Regions from separate parts of the Homo sapiens genome. Here regions 1 and 2 are each linked to region 3. The links come from fine-mapping of genetic effects on gene expression. A gene starts in region 3. Each other region holds a variant in brackets. All regions are shown on one strand. Distances are from middle to middle. Region 1 overlaps FREM1 (FRAS1 related extracellular matrix 1). Region 2 overlaps FREM1 (FRAS1 related extracellular matrix 1). Region 3 holds the start of FREM1 (FRAS1 related extracellular matrix 1).

What was found. PIP is the estimated chance that this variant, and not a neighbour inherited with it, causes the effect.
Region 1: its variant is the best candidate, but not a certain one, in a credible set for the expression of FREM1 in anterior cingulate cortex (GTEx, PIP 0.54).
Region 2: its variant is the best candidate, but not a certain one, in a credible set for the expression of FREM1 in lung (GTEx, PIP 0.61).

The regions. Positions count from the first base shown.
Region 1 is chr9:14,888,199-14,893,429 of GRCh38, reverse strand. All of the region lies in intron 1 of FREM1 (FRAS1 related extracellular matrix 1), which reads left to right. Among named protein-coding and RNA genes, the nearest start is that of FREM1, 20 kb to the left of the region's middle. The variant A/G (reference allele first, on the strand shown) is at 3,160.
Region 2 is chr9:14,881,541-14,886,771 of GRCh38, reverse strand. The region is part of intron 1 of FREM1 (FRAS1 related extracellular matrix 1); the gene reads left to right. Among named protein-coding and RNA genes, the nearest start is that of FREM1, 26 kb to the left of the region's middle. The variant T/C (reference allele first, on the strand shown) is at 2,548.
Region 3 is chr9:14,907,650-14,912,880 of GRCh38, reverse strand. It overlaps FREM1 (FRAS1 related extracellular matrix 1), which reads left to right and starts at 2,453. Exons shown (of 37, transcript NM_001379081.2): 1 at 2,453-2,967. RefSeq lists enhancers at 3,688-4,189, 5,139-5,231.

The sequences.
Region 1 (5,231 bases), 19 kb after region 3:
CTCCCAAGGACATAACTGACCAGTTTTGCTGGACTGTCTTAGACAGCAGGCTTATGGGGTCCTAGGCCCGCATTCTATCCTGAGGTATCCCTCTTTCTGACAGAAAGATATGGAAAGACAAATTCATAGCACAAAGTACAACAGATTCACTACAGTTTAAGACTAGCCTCACGAATTCTTTTTCCCACTAATCAAAACTTTACAGAGGAGATAAACAGTAATTTTTACCATTCATTCAACCACAGAGAGAGAGAGAGAGAAAGAGAGAAGTCAAAATTCTTACCCTTTTGCTGACATGCCAGGCTTCAGGGTTTCCTTTCTCTGAGTGGCCCTACTGACCCGGCTGGCTGCACCACAGCTCTGGGGGCCAAGCCGCAACACGAAGGAAGGCCAGAGTAAAATACATGTGACAAAACACAGACATTAGCCCCTCTGCTTAGCACCTAGTATCAAACTGACAAGGCTCAAACGTGCCCCCGGCTGGACCCTGCCATTGTTAATCCAACCTCTGACCAGGAATTTCAACTCGTGGTCTCTGGGCAAGATGGTCACCCTGAGTAATAGTAAAGACGGGAAAAGGAAAGGAGAGAGAGAAAAGCATTGCCTGGGGCAGAGTGGGGAAGGTGAAGAGCCCAGGGAGGCCAGAGAAAGACCCACCCATTGCAGCGACACTGAAAAGTTCAGGCGGCAGCTTGTCAGTAGAAGAGGGATCTTTCATGGCAGTTCCATCAGCTCTCAAGTTTCCCCTTTAGGGGGAAACTTGTCCCCATGTCCCATGATCCTGTACATGCCTAATTCTGTCACCCACAGCCATCAGCAAAGAGTGCAAGGCAGATTAACCCAAAGAAATGGTGGTTAACATCCTATAGTGCCAAACCCGTTCTTAGCTGAGAGGGACTTTACTGGGAGGGGCCTCTAACCCCCTAAATCTTAGGAAAGACTCTAACTTTCATAAGTTGGGTCTCAAACCCAAGTTCGGTCAAGCGTCCTTGCCTTTTATTAAGAGGGGCCTTTAACCCACTCTATCTTAGGAGAGACTCTAACTCTCCTTAGTTGGGCTTCTAACCCAATCCCGTCATTTACTCTGGTAAATGCACCCCACCTACCCAAAGTCAGCCAATTTGTGTGTGCAAATGATTTTCCTTTGGGTTGGAAGCCTCTTCAGTATCATCCCTTTGGGGTTTGCAGAATAATGTTACTGGATCCCACCACTTACCCAGAGTTAGCCTTTGGGTCGGGGGGTTTTTTCAGTATTGTCCCTTCTGTAGTGACCATAAAGATGTTACAGGAAAGGGGTCCCAATCCAGACCCCAAGAGAGAGTTCTTAGGTACTCAGAAAGTTCTTAGGTACTCAGAAAGAGGGATACCTTAGGATAGAAAGAATTCAGGGTGAGTCCATAGAGTAAAGTGAAAGCAAGTTAATTAAGAAAGTAAAGGAATAAAAGAATGGCTACTCCATAGACAGAGCAGGCAGCAAATACCATTTTGTATTGTAAAATACCTGATTATAAATCTCCCTCCCACAAGACCTCAATCTCTTAAAGATTAAAGTTACCTCTTATTGAACTTTTTCTTGCACAGTGCCCCTGTACTTTTTCTCACAAAAACTCCTTGCTTCTGACATAACACCTACTTGTTGATTCTTTGACTATGCTACATTCTTTCTCTCCATCTTCAAACATGCCCTTACTTTTCCTATGCACCTTTCTCAATACTAATTTTTCTTTCAAATTTAACTCTTTCCCCTTCTGGGAAGCGTACCCTAGGCCCAGTTTGAGTCAAATGCTGCCTTCCTATTTAGTCCTATACCATAAAATATATCTCACCATTACTGCACTTACCACCCTTGCTGTTTTGTTTTGCTTTTCTGAGGCAGGGTCTTGCTGTGTTGCCCAGACTGGCCTTGAGCTCCCTGGCTCAAGCAATCCTCCTGCCTCAGCCTCCCCAGTTGCTAGGACTACAGACATGTTCCCCTGTGCTTGGCATTACTGCCTGTTTTGAATCATTAGTTTATGTTTGTCTTTCTGAATTACACTGTACACTCTCTAAGGGCAAGAATTTTTTTTTGTCATTTTTGTCTTCACAATCCCAGCACTTAACGTAGCACTTGTCCCTAAGTGAGTACTCAGCAATTGTTTGTACAATGAATGAACAGATGATATGTCATACTCAAAAAGCCAAGATACATTCTGAAAATTGAATTGGTCTCAAAGATGAATTCCTGGACATGATTTAATACGAATTTAAACAGAATCTCACTTTTACACAGTTTGGTGTTGTTCTGTTGTAAATTAAGAAATGAAGAATTCACTCAAGAAGAGGAAAATTAATTTCAGTTGGCGTGACACTGGTGGGGAAGGCCCTAGGTGTGAGTTTTGGTACATGCCCACGGTAGGTCCCTGATGAAGAATGGGGCACACCATGATGAATGTGAGTGTTTTTCACTCTGCTTAAGTTATTCAATTAAAGCAACCTGTTGTGAAAATTGTATGATACAACGCTCTGGCTGAAAGCAACATGATTTTAAGTTATGGCCATTTCCTAACTAATCTTCAGGGAAATGTTTTTGATGGTTTAAGAGGCTTTGATAGTCATTAAAAACAGAACTGTAAGTTGAGGGCACACATTTTTTCCCTCTGCAATCAGTTTTCTCTACCTTTGAAGGTAGTTTTAGTAGAAGGCCTCTGTAGAAACAGGCAGACGTCTGGTTTCCAAGGGATATCCTGGAATTTGAATTTCTGAAGTAGACTTATTAGGTATAGATTTATCGGGCATGGCCAGAAATGTTTTAGATACCCTCTGGCCATTCTATATTTTAGTCATTTTAAGTCTCTTGAATGATTTCTCAAAGAACCCGTTTTGTTTTGTTTTGTTTTAATGAAAAAGAACAAAAAACGTTTTCCATAAGTTTGCAGACTTTGGGCTTAAAAAGGCTCCTTTCTGCAAGACTTCTTAGAATCTTTAATATGCTCATATTATATTGTGAATTTTTAGAAGGTGATTTTAGCGTTCTGTGCTTCAAATGTATTTGGGTATGGTGAACTTTTTTTGTGGCAAGCTTTTAACGTCTCCAAAATATTCATTTTCACAAGCACAGTTTGCAAAACATGGCAGGGTAGAGTTTGAGCTATTGGAAATCTAAGGAAGGAAACCTAATGA[A/G]TTTGTGTTGTAGGCAAAGGTATGTCTGTCTTTGCAGCCTTGGTCATCATGGGGTTCAGAACATGGTATCCCCAAATAGGGTGCCTTGGCACATTGAATATTTTGAACTGGAGGAATTTGAGAAGTGGCATGTGGTGGAAAGACTCTCTGACCTTCTCCCCTGAACAGCAGGTTACAGTACCCTTGTGTGAGAGAAGTGCCCTCCTGATACCCAGAGGAAAGGAGTATCCTTAGCTCCAAGAATGGAGGGACACAATGGGGAATCTGCACAGGCAGGTCTTGCTCACTTTCCCCCAGTTTACCACCCTCAGCTCACACATCTTTGTCCTAATACATTTTCCCATAACTTTCCACTCTTCATCAAGCTTAGGATAAAAATGCTCACGCTTAATGTTTCTTTCTGTCTTCATTTTTTTAATGAAGGCTCCCACGTCACATGGCACTTATATTCAATAAATTTTATGTTTTCCCTTTGTTAATTTGTCTCTTTTCAGTCTAATTTACAAGGCCCCGGACAACCTAAGAGCATAGAAGGAAAGGAGTTTTCCCTTCCCTCTACTCATGACAGTATAGCCTGAGGGAGGGCTCCCTCTCCAGAGTTCTGAGTCTGGCAGCTTCCTGAAGATCTGGGAAGGAAATGCTGAAAGGAATATTTCTGGAATAAGCATCTGTGATTTAAGGAAGCCACCTGGGATAATGGACATAGCACTAGTCTAGTGTCAGAACTGAGATTCCCATCCAGCCTTGGTTTCCAGGTAGCTGTGTAGTCTTGGTAGGCATTTAACGACCATGGGTCTTCCTCTCTTATGTAAATGAAAGAATTCCTAGAAGAGAACACACAAATGGCTAAGGGACATTAAGATAAAAGGGAAAAAAACTAAACCTTCCACATAAACAAAGGAAGTGCAAATTAAAACAGTGTCAGATACATTTCACTTGGGAGATGAATAAAGATTAAAGGGGCAATGTTGAATGTGAGGAAGGCTGGTGAGGGTGGAAATTGGTACCAGCTTTCCAGAAAGCATGCATATCAAGAGCCTCAGAGTAAGTTCTCACCCTTCAGCTTTACAATTCCACATCTGGAAATCAATCAAAAGACATAAACTAGAGAAACAGACCGATTTATACTTAAGGATTTTTTTATCACAATCTTTGACATAGTAACTACTTCAATGTAGCAGTGAGATGATTATAGCAACTATAGTACACCCATCTAGTGGCTATAATGCACAAATTAAAAGCACAATTGCAAGGAATGTTTAGTAATACAGAAAATGCTTACAATAGAACATTATGTTAATAAAAAGGGATACTACACAACTCTTTGGGGGTATTGAAAAGGATATTTTTTTTCTATATGTTTCTGTGTTTTTGTCCTTTAATTAATGAGCATGCCTTTCTTTCATATTTTAAAAAAAGTTATTTTCAGAAAAAGCAAATACATTGATAAATGAACTGAAGAATATGGCCTCGATGATTTCTAAAGTTTCTCCTAAAATCATACATTGTGTGATGTAGGTTATGGATTAGAAAACATTGTAGAGAAGAGGAAGCAGAATGTTATAGACAGAGTCAACACACATTTTATTGATTTAAATGTGAGTCAACACACATTTAATTGATTTAAAATAGAATTATGAAGTGGCCTATTTGACTTGAGACCTTTAACCTGGGCTTGTAGTGTAAGCAGTTGGAACATGAAGATGCTGGTAGACAGGGTATCTCTCTTAATTATTTGCTCTTAAAGCAGCAGCTACTTCCTTTAGAGAACATTGTTTCTAGTGAAACATTAACTTCTGGAATAGTATCTATTGCTGTCTGGAACCATAAAGGAAGTTGTTAAATTTCCTGCATACTATAGGAATAAAACTTTAGGGCTAGTGAAGTGATTGCAAAGAGTATAAGGTTTTGGTGTGATGTGAAGCAGTGTATATATAACAGTAGTGGTTAAGGGCAAGGGTTTTGGAGTTGGACAAAACCAGGCTCTAATTGCGATGACAAGGTCAAGCTGATGACATTGGGCAAGTTACTTAACCTCTTTATGTCTCATTTTCCAAATCTATAAAATCATT
Region 2 (5,231 bases), 26 kb after region 3:
CATGTGCCAGCACACCAACCTAATTTAAAATTTTTTTTTGTAGGAGTGGGGTTTCACCATATTGCCCAGGCTGGTCTTGACCTCCTGGGCTCAAGTCATCCACCTTCCTTGGCCTCCCAAAATGTTGGGATTAAAGGAGTGAGCCACCGCCCCTGTACATTCTATTGATAACTTCTAAGTTTAGCTTCTGACTAGCATTTTAAAGATTATAATGTGGAGTAGAAGTCAGAAAATCTTCATTGGCTTTCTTCACCATCTTGTTGAGGATTTCAAAAATCTCTTCCGTTTGGGTGGGTTCATCCTGAAGTGGCTATTTTCAGTTAAAATGCCATTTCTCTGTTAGCGTATTTTATTTCTTTTTCCTTTTTTTTTTTTTTTTTTTTTTTTGAGTCGGAGTCTCACTCTGTCACCAGGCTGGAGTGCAGTGGCACGATCTCGGCTTACTGCAACCTCCGCCTCCAGGGTTCAAGCGATTCTCCTGCCTCAGCCTCCCGAGTAGCTGGGATTTACAGGCGTGTGCCATCATGCCCAATTCATTTTTGTATTTTTAGTAGAGACAGGGTTTCACCATGTTGGCCAGAATGGTCTCAATCTCTTGACCTCGTGATCCGCCCACCTTGGTCTCCCAAAGTGCTGGGATTACAGGCGTGAGCCACCGCACACAGCAGTTTATTTCTTAAATGACTTTAGGGTACTTGTAAGACCTAAAGTTGTGAAAAAGTTGTTCTCATAGAAGTAGAGAGTAGAAGGTGGTTACCAGGGGCTGGGGAGGAGGGAGGACTGGGGAGGTGCTGATCAAAGGATACAAAATTTCAGTTAGTCCAAAGGAAGGAGATGTATTGTACAACATGACTACTATAGTTAACAGCATTGTATTGTATAGTTGAAAATTGCTAAGAGAGTAGATTTTAAATGTTCTCCTCATAAAAAGAAGATATGTAAGGTAATAGATATGTTAGTTATTTGATTTAGCTATTTCACATTGTATATGTATATCAAAACATCATGACACAACAGTGTATGTATATATTGCAAAACAGCTAAATTAAGTCATTAACCTGGTGGCTCACACCTGTAATCCCAGAACTTTGGGAGGCTAAGATGGAAGAATAGCTTGAGACCAGGAGTTCAAGACCAGCCTGGGCAACATTGTGAGACTCCCATCCCTATGAAAATTAAAAAACAATTAGCCAGATGTGGTGGTGCATGCCTGTAGTCCCAGGTACCTGGGAGGCTGGAGCTGAGGCTTGCTTGAGCCCAGGAATTGGAGGCTGCAGTCAGCTATCATCGCACCACTGCATGCTAGCCTGGGCGACAGGGTGAAACCCCTGTCTCTAAAACAAACAAAAATCATGTTGTACATCATAAATATACACAATTTTATTTTTCAATTAAAAATAAGTAAAAACGAACAATAAATAATTGTGTGAGTCAAGGGGTAATAACTGCAAGCCTGGGGAAGACAAAAATGTTCCATTGCTTATGTCATCTTTAGTCAAATGGTGATAACTACCTAGATCACTAATGAGAAGAGTTTTGGGCCACATATGAATTCTGCAAAAAGCAAAGAAAATAAAAAGCAATGATGGGGAGGCCGAGGCGGGTGGATCACGAGCTCAGGAGATCGAGACCATTCTGGCTAACACGGTGAAACCCCATCTCTAGTAAAAATACAAAAAATTAGCCGGGCGCGGTGGCGGGCAGCTGTAGTCCCAGCCACTCGGGGGGCTGAGGCAGGAGAATGGCGTGAACCCGGGAGGCGGAGCTTGCAGTGAGCCGAGATCGCACCACTGCACTCCAGCCTGGGCGACAGAGCGAGACTCCGTCTCAAAAAAAAAAAAAAAAAAAAAAAAAAAGCTATGATGAATTATTGATATCTTGATAACTATGCTGGGCATAGGAGGGGGAAGGCACTTGCCTTGTGTTGGGTAGCTACCATTGCAAAATTCCAGAGAGGAAGAATAGTAAATATTATTTTCATCAAGGCACGTCATTACCATTGACCGTTAAGAATTTCCATTGCATTGAGAGCTGTACAGCTGAGATCCATTTTTTTTCTTGTTGTGCACAGATTATCTCAAATTAGTGACAGGAGTATCATGTTTATATCAACATGAAGAATACATGCTCATATAGTTAAGCTGAATGTGTAATTATGAAATAAATACTAGCTCACATTTCCCCTCCACCAATTATGTTACTAAATTATTTTCTTCTGTTCAAAAAATTTCCCAAAAAGTTTGGTTGAAGAAATCTTTATGAATTTTCATAAGAATTCAAAACAGCGTGTTTTTTCACATTTCAGAAAGAATTTTCACACAGCTTTATTGGCGTTTATTGGCTTATACAGATATACTGTACTTAGAATACATGATTACCATGTAAAGAAAAAAGGCAATGGTGGGAAAATGGTCAGGGAGAGCAGAACTGATTTGCAGTCATGTCAGGAGGATTTCGAAATGTTAAGAAACAGCTGAGCCACACAAGCAAGCCAAGACAGGATTTGTTTCTTGTTTTTTTTCTTTTTTTCTTTTTTCTTTTTTGAGA[T/C]GGAGTCTCGCTCTGTCGCCCAGGCTGGAGTGCAGTGGCGCGATCTTGGCTCACTGCAACCTCCGCCTCCCAAGTTCAAGAGATTCTCCTGCCTCAGCCTCCCAAGTAGCTGGGAATATGGGCACCCACCACCACGCCCGGCTGATTTTTGTATTTTTAGTAGAGGCAGGGTTTCGCCGTGTTAGTCAGGCTGGGCTCGAACTCCTGACCTCAGGTGATCCGCCTGCCTGGGCCTCCCAAAGCGCCAGGATTTGTTTCAAGGATTTGAATCAAGTCCGAGGTGGCTAAAAGTCAGTTTACAAGCTCCCTTGGGGAATATGGCCAGGTGCCCTTTCTACTTCCACTTCTAGCTGCCCCCAATAATTCTGCCGACCCTGAGGGTGCCCATACTAGCAATCAGAGCAAGCTGTGGACAGATGGATTCTGAGGCTCTGACTTAGCCCTATGCTGGGACTAAGAAAATAAAATTCTCAAGATGTGCTAGGCTTCCCATTAGAGTGTTGTTTTTCATGTAGAAGTTGGCTGTCACTGGACATAGTAATTTTGTGTCAGAGACAAGACAGTTATTACCGTCTCATTTTGAGGTGTTAAAAGACCCATCATCACTGTGAAATCTTGTTTGCTTCAGAATTTTGCTTTGCTTTGCTGTTGTTCTGTTTTTCTTCTGGCCCTTTCTCGGTCTGCTCGTCTGAATTCTTTTCTCTTTCCCCTCCCATGCCACCTTCTTGAAGCCAAAAATAAGAGCAGTATTTTCCATGGAATGTCCACATACTTGGTGTTTCCCAACACCAAGAGAAAAATACAAGAGCAAAATTAGAATGCAAATAAAACCAAACAAAGCATACCCTTTTTGATCTTTATTGCTTCTAATTCTGCAGCCTTCAGTCTAGGCTCAGTTGATTGAAGGATGAGTTTTGTTTGATTTTGAATTTGGAAATTGTTACTCTTGTACTTTTCCCCCCTCCTAACTGTGTTGCTTCAGGTTGTTTTTGAAATATCAAAATTTAGTTTTTTAATATGTATTCTGTTGTAAGACTATGAGAAAGAAAAAATTAGAATGTAAATAAAACAGACTCTATTTGACATTTATTGAACCTAATTTTGCCACCTTGCCACCTTCATCCAGGCCCAATTCCTTCTACTCTGTTTTTCCTGAGAAAGCTTTACTTTCTTGTCTCTTTGATATATTTTGTAATAATAATGTTAACATTTGTATGGGGGTTTGTAATTAAGAAAATATTTCCACATAGATTATTGGTCTGACAGGGGAACTTTGGAGGCAAGATGGGTGATTCCTTTTTTTTTTTTTTTTGAGATGGAGTCTCGCTCTGCTGCCCTGGCTGGAGTGCAGTGGCATGATCTCAGCTCATTGCAACCTCTGCCTCCCAGGTTCAGGCGATTCTCCTGCTTCAGCCTCCCATTTTTGAAAGAGGAAAGTATGTTCATAAAAATCAGGATTAGAATCCATGGCCAGGTGCAGTGGTTCACACCTGTAATCCCAGCACTTTGGGAGCTGAGGCGGGCAGATCACTTGAGGTCAGGAGTTTGAGACCAGCCTGGCCAACATGGTGAAACCCCATCTCTACTAAAAATAATACAAAAATTAGCCAGGCGTAGTGGCGGGCACCTGTAATCCCAGCTGCTAGGGAGGCTGAGGCAGGAGAATTGCTTGAACCCAGGAGGTTGCAGTAAGCCAAGGCTGTGCTACTGCACTGCAGCCTGGGTGACAGAACAAGAATCCATCTCAAAAAAAAAAAAAAGATAAGAAGAAAATTAAAAAAATAATAATCGGGATTAGAATCCAGATATTCAAAATTCAAGTCTATTCTTTCAACAGCATTGTGGTGCAGGGAGCCATAAGAATAGATATCTCCTCTCTTCTCTTGTCTCTTCCTGGCAGATAAACATTAGGATCTTGGACTTTGACCTTATCTCTCAGTTAAGGGTTTACTATGATATAATTAGAGAATGAACTATTGTCCCATATGCTGTTAGGTAGGAAGTTAAATCTTTAGCTGATTAGTGACTAAACAAAATTAATACAAAAACTTGAAGAAGAAGTGATTATTAAAGGTATAGTTAAGTTCAGTCATGAGTCACACACACACACACAAAATAATAACAGTGAGTTAAATAGGAAAGAAGTTTACATTCTCTCCTGTGTAAAATTCTGGATGAATGGACTGGTATGGTGGTTCTGCTTTGCAAATGGCCCAGAGACCCAGGGTCCTTCTAGCTCACAGCTCCACCAACCTATGCCATAGCCTCATTTTTTCATGTGCAAGGCAGCACCTTCCATCTTGGCAACAAGATGGAGGGAAGCATAAAGAAAAAGGGAGAAGAGGCACACCGTAACTACCTCTTAAAGGAGGTTTCTCAGAGACACCATGTGACTGCTCTTCTTCAATTCCATTGGCCAGAATCTGATCACATAGCCGCAGATAGCTACAAGAGAGACTGTGAAATATAGTCTTTGTTCTGGGTGACTATATACCTAGTTAAAATTTTTATTTCTATGGAGGAAGGTGAGGTTGGATGTTGTGGGACAAATAGACATTCCTGTCAGAGATAGATATTGGAAGAGAGTTACTAAGTTATCATAAGTGAAACGAAGGAAACATTTGCTATATTATTTTAACAATCTATCTGAGAGGAGCTTATTTGGCATTCTAAATTGTTTACAT
Region 3 (5,231 bases):
CTATTCCTGGACTCATCCTCTTCTCTTGCCATAGTATTGCTTCCCATGGCCATCTAGTGTTAGAGACTCAGTGGAAAACTATCTTTACGTTGCAATAGATAACACTTCTGTCTGCTGCCATCGTCAAAATTTAATAGGCACATTCCTAATTTTTTATATGAATTGTTGGTGAAGGCATTGGCTATGCCTTTCAGAGAATGCTACATTCTACAGCAATTCAACAAAAATCATTCATATTTACAATCCAAAATGATATGCCAATCTCCAACACACATTTGATATTTTTCATTATCACTCCAACTAGGGCTAGAAGTAAAATGATTTCTTTAAAAATGAATTTTGTGCCAGCACTAAGTTCAGCAGCACATGCTTTTAGGGGAAGAATTCTTTGTTGTTTCTTTGACTAGTTCTTTTTAAATTCCCTAGCTTGGCATTTCAATCTGTTCAAACAGTATTTTATTGATTGAAGTTGATAATTGTATTATTTCCAGGCCCTTATTCATTTGTGGCAGATAGAAGGAATGACATTTGTATAAACAGGTACTTCAGATTTCAGGACATTTTGACTGATCTAACTCTTAACTGCCTATTTCAGAATATGTTCAGCACAGTTAGGCCAAGCTTCATGTATATAATTAACTTTGGAAAGATTATATCTCCTGCGGACTTTTTGAAATACTTTACAATCTAAGTTTGTTATTTTTTGCTTAGCATGCTTAAGTTATTTTTCCCATAGAAGTGATATAAAGACATTTATCTCTGTTTCTAGACTAATCTGTAAACCTTATTTAGCTCTTAATCTATCTATAAACTTTATAATCTATCTATAAACTAATCTATAAACCTTATTAGTTTCTAGACTAATCTATAAACCTTATTTAGATGTTAGAATAAGCATGTTGATGCAACCGTTTGTACATAGTATACAATTCCTTTGTCAAATGGAATCCGAGTCTCAACTAACAGCTTCTAAAACCATCTTCATTTCTTTGCAGGTAAGATATTCACAACCTGGGCAATTTTGAAAATCAGTTGGGGAATAAAATTGTCTATTATGCTGTGTTTCTTAACTGTCATTATTAAGGCTTTATTTCTTGCCTTTTCAGGATTAATATATGACTCACACATTGTCACTATATTTATTTAATAATAACTGTGTTTAGTAAATAATATCTGTTCACTTATAAAGAGCTTAGTGATTCTTAACTTTCACCTACTTATTCTCAGAGCAAATAAAATGAATCAAGAAATTCTTGAAGATTTGAAATCTCCGATGACTTTGAGTAAGTGTATATGCACCATTCATTGCTAAAGTAACCACAAAGCATGTTTTTAAAATACATAATTTTTTTCTCCCTTCTTATGCATTCTTTTCTTCTTTACATTTTTCTCTTTTCTTTCTTCCTTCCTCATGTAATTTTCTTCTCCTTTTTCATTTTCCTCTCTCTTTTCCTTATGGCTTCCAAAGAAAGGCATATGGTGTTGTGACCTTGTTACGGGAAACCACATCTAGGTTGAATTGGATTCACAGTGTTCTATATTTTTGGCAAAGGTTTAGGATAGCCAGACATGTCTTAATATAAACAGTTCCCCCAAAGTGAGTTAATACTTCAAATTCTCTCTTTATGGTTAATTTAGAAGGCCAGATGGTAGGCCATTATCTTTTTTTTTCCTGGTGGGAATAAAATACAGGAAAGCATTTTATTAAACAGTTGTTAAGGATTAAGACTTTCACAGACCACTGAATACTGACAAGTTAACTATGTGAATCTCTGTTGAGAGGACAGTTCTTGGCCAGTGATATATCTGCATTATTGGGATCACGCACTATATGCAAATGGATCAGATTAATGGGATTTTTATGGGTTTTCGAAAAGAGCCAGACACACAAAAAGCCTTACAAATGGAAGAACTAAGGTGGTACTTAAAAACAGCACCTTAGGATCTAGTTCCATCCTATCTTTTCCCTTAAATGCCATGACAAAAGTTAAAACGGGCCCTGTCCCTTCTGAATGCTGGGCTTCTCATCTAAATTTAAATAAAAACCTTTGAAGATGGGAATGTGTTGGAAGAAAAGAAGGGCAGAAAAAAAGTGTGTTGGAAGAGTCTGTGTGAGTATGTACATGTGTGGGTGTGGGCATGTGCGGCCTGTGCGTATGTGTGTGCCCCCGTGTGTGTGTGGAGCATGCGTGAGAATGCATGCACATGTGTGGGGTGGGTCACTATGTGTGCATGCATGTGAAGGCATTTGCCTGTGTATGTGTCTGTGTGTGGTGATTGTGTGTCTATCGTGTTTGTATGTGTGCCTGTGTGTGTACCTCTGTGAGTGGGTGTGTCTGTATGTGACTGTGTGCCCATTTGTGAATGTGTGTGTGCCTGTGTCTGAGTGTGTGTGTGCCTGTGTGCTGCAGGCGGGAGAGGCTGCTCTGGCTCGGCGAGTGGCGGAGCAGTTAGTACAAAACTAGTAGTGAGAAAGGAAGCTGGGAAGAGACTGGGAAGAGGCAACCGACCTCATTAACAAAAGCTCAGTTTTGTCCCTGCGGACCCAACCAGCAGAAGGCACGGGGCTAGCGGTGGCTGTCCGCCAGGGAGGTCGGGCTCTGTGTAAACAGTAGAAGGCATCTTTATCATGCCCTTCTCACAGGGAGTCCTGAGGCTTGGCGCTCAGGAAGTTTGCAAAGCTGCAGCAGCTGCCTTGGAGAAGACCAGCAAAGAAAGTGGAGTGTGTATGTGAACTTCAATTCTGTATTTTCTGTGAGGTGGGTTAATGGATTTTTAGTAAAAAGAAATCTCAAACACAGCTGACCTGAAAGACTGGAATTTCAGCTCTCTTCCTTCCCGGGGTTCTTTTTCCTCCCCCTTCCTCTCAAAGCCCTTTAAACCAGATTGCTGTGTCAGTGACTCTTATCCTGCCCGCCAGTTCCAAGGGTTTCTAACTTTTTGTCTTGGAAAGGAAAACCACTACCTGTAAGTATCTGTTTTATGTGTTTCTTTTCATTGTGACTGTGAATGTTCTGTTAGCAGAATGCCCCAGAGATTGTTTGTGTGATATCATTAATGCCAAGTAACAATGCAAAGCATCTGCAAGAGTAGGCTTGCAAAAGTTTAACTCTCCTGTTAACTCAGAAGATGGCAACTTGCAGTGTTAACAAACCAAATGCCAAAACTGAGATTCTTTTTATTACGTGACACAAATTTCTAACTCTTCTCAGTCCATCCGTGCTGGCACTTGCCAATGAAATAACCATTTTTTAACTGTGTAATTGTTTCCTCTGAAATTAGAATGTTTCTTCTCAGCTAAATGAAATGGCAAAGGGAAAAGACACAAAAATGAACAGAACAGATAATATCCTCATGGTACAAACATAGAGAAATTTGGATGAGATAATGTCTGGATACCTTTGCTTAAGTTTAGTTATATTTGGAGACATATTTTCAAAAACATGATTTCTGTTTCATTGTGGGGAAGAGAGATAGTGCTGGGGAGGCAAAGAAATGGCCTTGTTCTGAAGTTTTTGGACTGATTTTTAGGCTCTCTCTGCTCAGTACTGAGATTTGGTCCAGAGACTTTGGTGCTGTTGTAAAGAGTTTCTTTTCATTTTATTTTGAAATCCAGGAAACAATTTTTGGCTTATGGAAATTGTTTATTGTTTTTAAGGTATTTAATTTTAGTTTCTGATTTTTTTTTAAACTATTGCACCCAGTCTTGTTGCTTGGTGTGCATTACAAAGCTTAAAAAGAGCATTTCTGGGAGCCAATTGGTGTTTATAGCCTGGGAATCTTACTGGAGAGATTAACCTCTGTGGTGCTGCTTCACAGAACAGAGCTAGTGATTCGAATGCTCTTCAGGTTTCTGCTCTGGAAAACTGACACCCGCTGTTCCTGACTCTAGGTAAAGCTTGAAGAGCTGTGCCTCAGCCCCCTGCTTACATTTGATAAAGGTGCCTTCAGTGCAGCTCTAGGAAACTTTGCTGTTTCTCTCCATCAGGCATTCTCAAAACTGACTGTGTGTAAGAACCCCCATTTGCTTGGTGAAAGGCAGGTTCTCAGTTCCCAGGCCCAAAGGATTTTAGACCTGGAGTGGTGCCAGGAATCTTCCCAGGTGATTCTGAAGCAGGTGGGTCACACTTGGGTAAACATTGCTCTACATTGTCCTTGACATGAAATTCTTGTCATGTACTTGGTTAATATTAAACCTTATATCTAAATAAGAAACCTGAGTTTGAGCTGTTGTTGAGCATAACTTAATGTGCAACATGGTTTTGCATGCTTGGCTGGCAAACCAGGGCTTTTTAATCAGTTTTCCACCAACCTCATCTTTTTTTTTTCTTGCTTCCCTTTTCATCTCTGCCTTTTCATTCCCACGAGGGAAAAAAGGAGTTGGGCAAAGGGACCTGACTACCATGTTCCCTGCTTTCACATGTTGGGCTATATGGCCTGATCTGCCCCCGCATGGCTAAGCAATGTTTGTTTTGGAAACTTTAAACCCAGGACTGTTCTTAATTCTTTCCCAGCCTCCTGGGGCTGCTGGGCTGTAGGGGTTGGGCGAGGCTGAGTTTGGGTAAACTGAGCTTGATTTCATGGAATGGTTCAGGAGCCTCATTCCTAGAAAATGATTTTTGGATTGGACCATCCCACAGGGATGAGAAGAAACAGAAAATGATTCTTCCATGGTGTTAAAATTCTCATTTCACAATATGTGAAAGTCAGAGCTCAGCTTCCATCCCCATCCTTGCATTTTCTGGCGTTTAATATTTATATTAAAAAGAAAACTGGACATGGCCATCAGAGCCCCTTGCTTTCTTTTCTTTCCTCATTCCAAACATTTAGGTGCACCTGCTACATGCCAGGCTCTGTGATAGTTTTTAAGGATTTCAGAATGCCCACTGGGGATGGCATGCACAGGCAGGGTCCTTGTCCTCATGGTGTTTCAAATCTTAGTTGTTGCTAACCAGCCTTGGAAGAGCCATCTAACCCCTCAAAGCTTCACTTCCTCATCAGTAAAATAAGTTGAATTAAATGAGTTTTGGTATCTTCCTAGCTCTGATATTCTGACATTGATGGATATGACTCAGTCTTCTAAACACAGATATGGGCTATGAGAGCTTTTCAGCATTTACTCTGAGAATAGGCCTAAAGATTTCGCTAATTGCTTTTCTTCAAAAATTTTCAGATGTATTTTTTTCTCTCACAAAGCACCATGACCACAGGAATATTGAGTTAGACAAGTG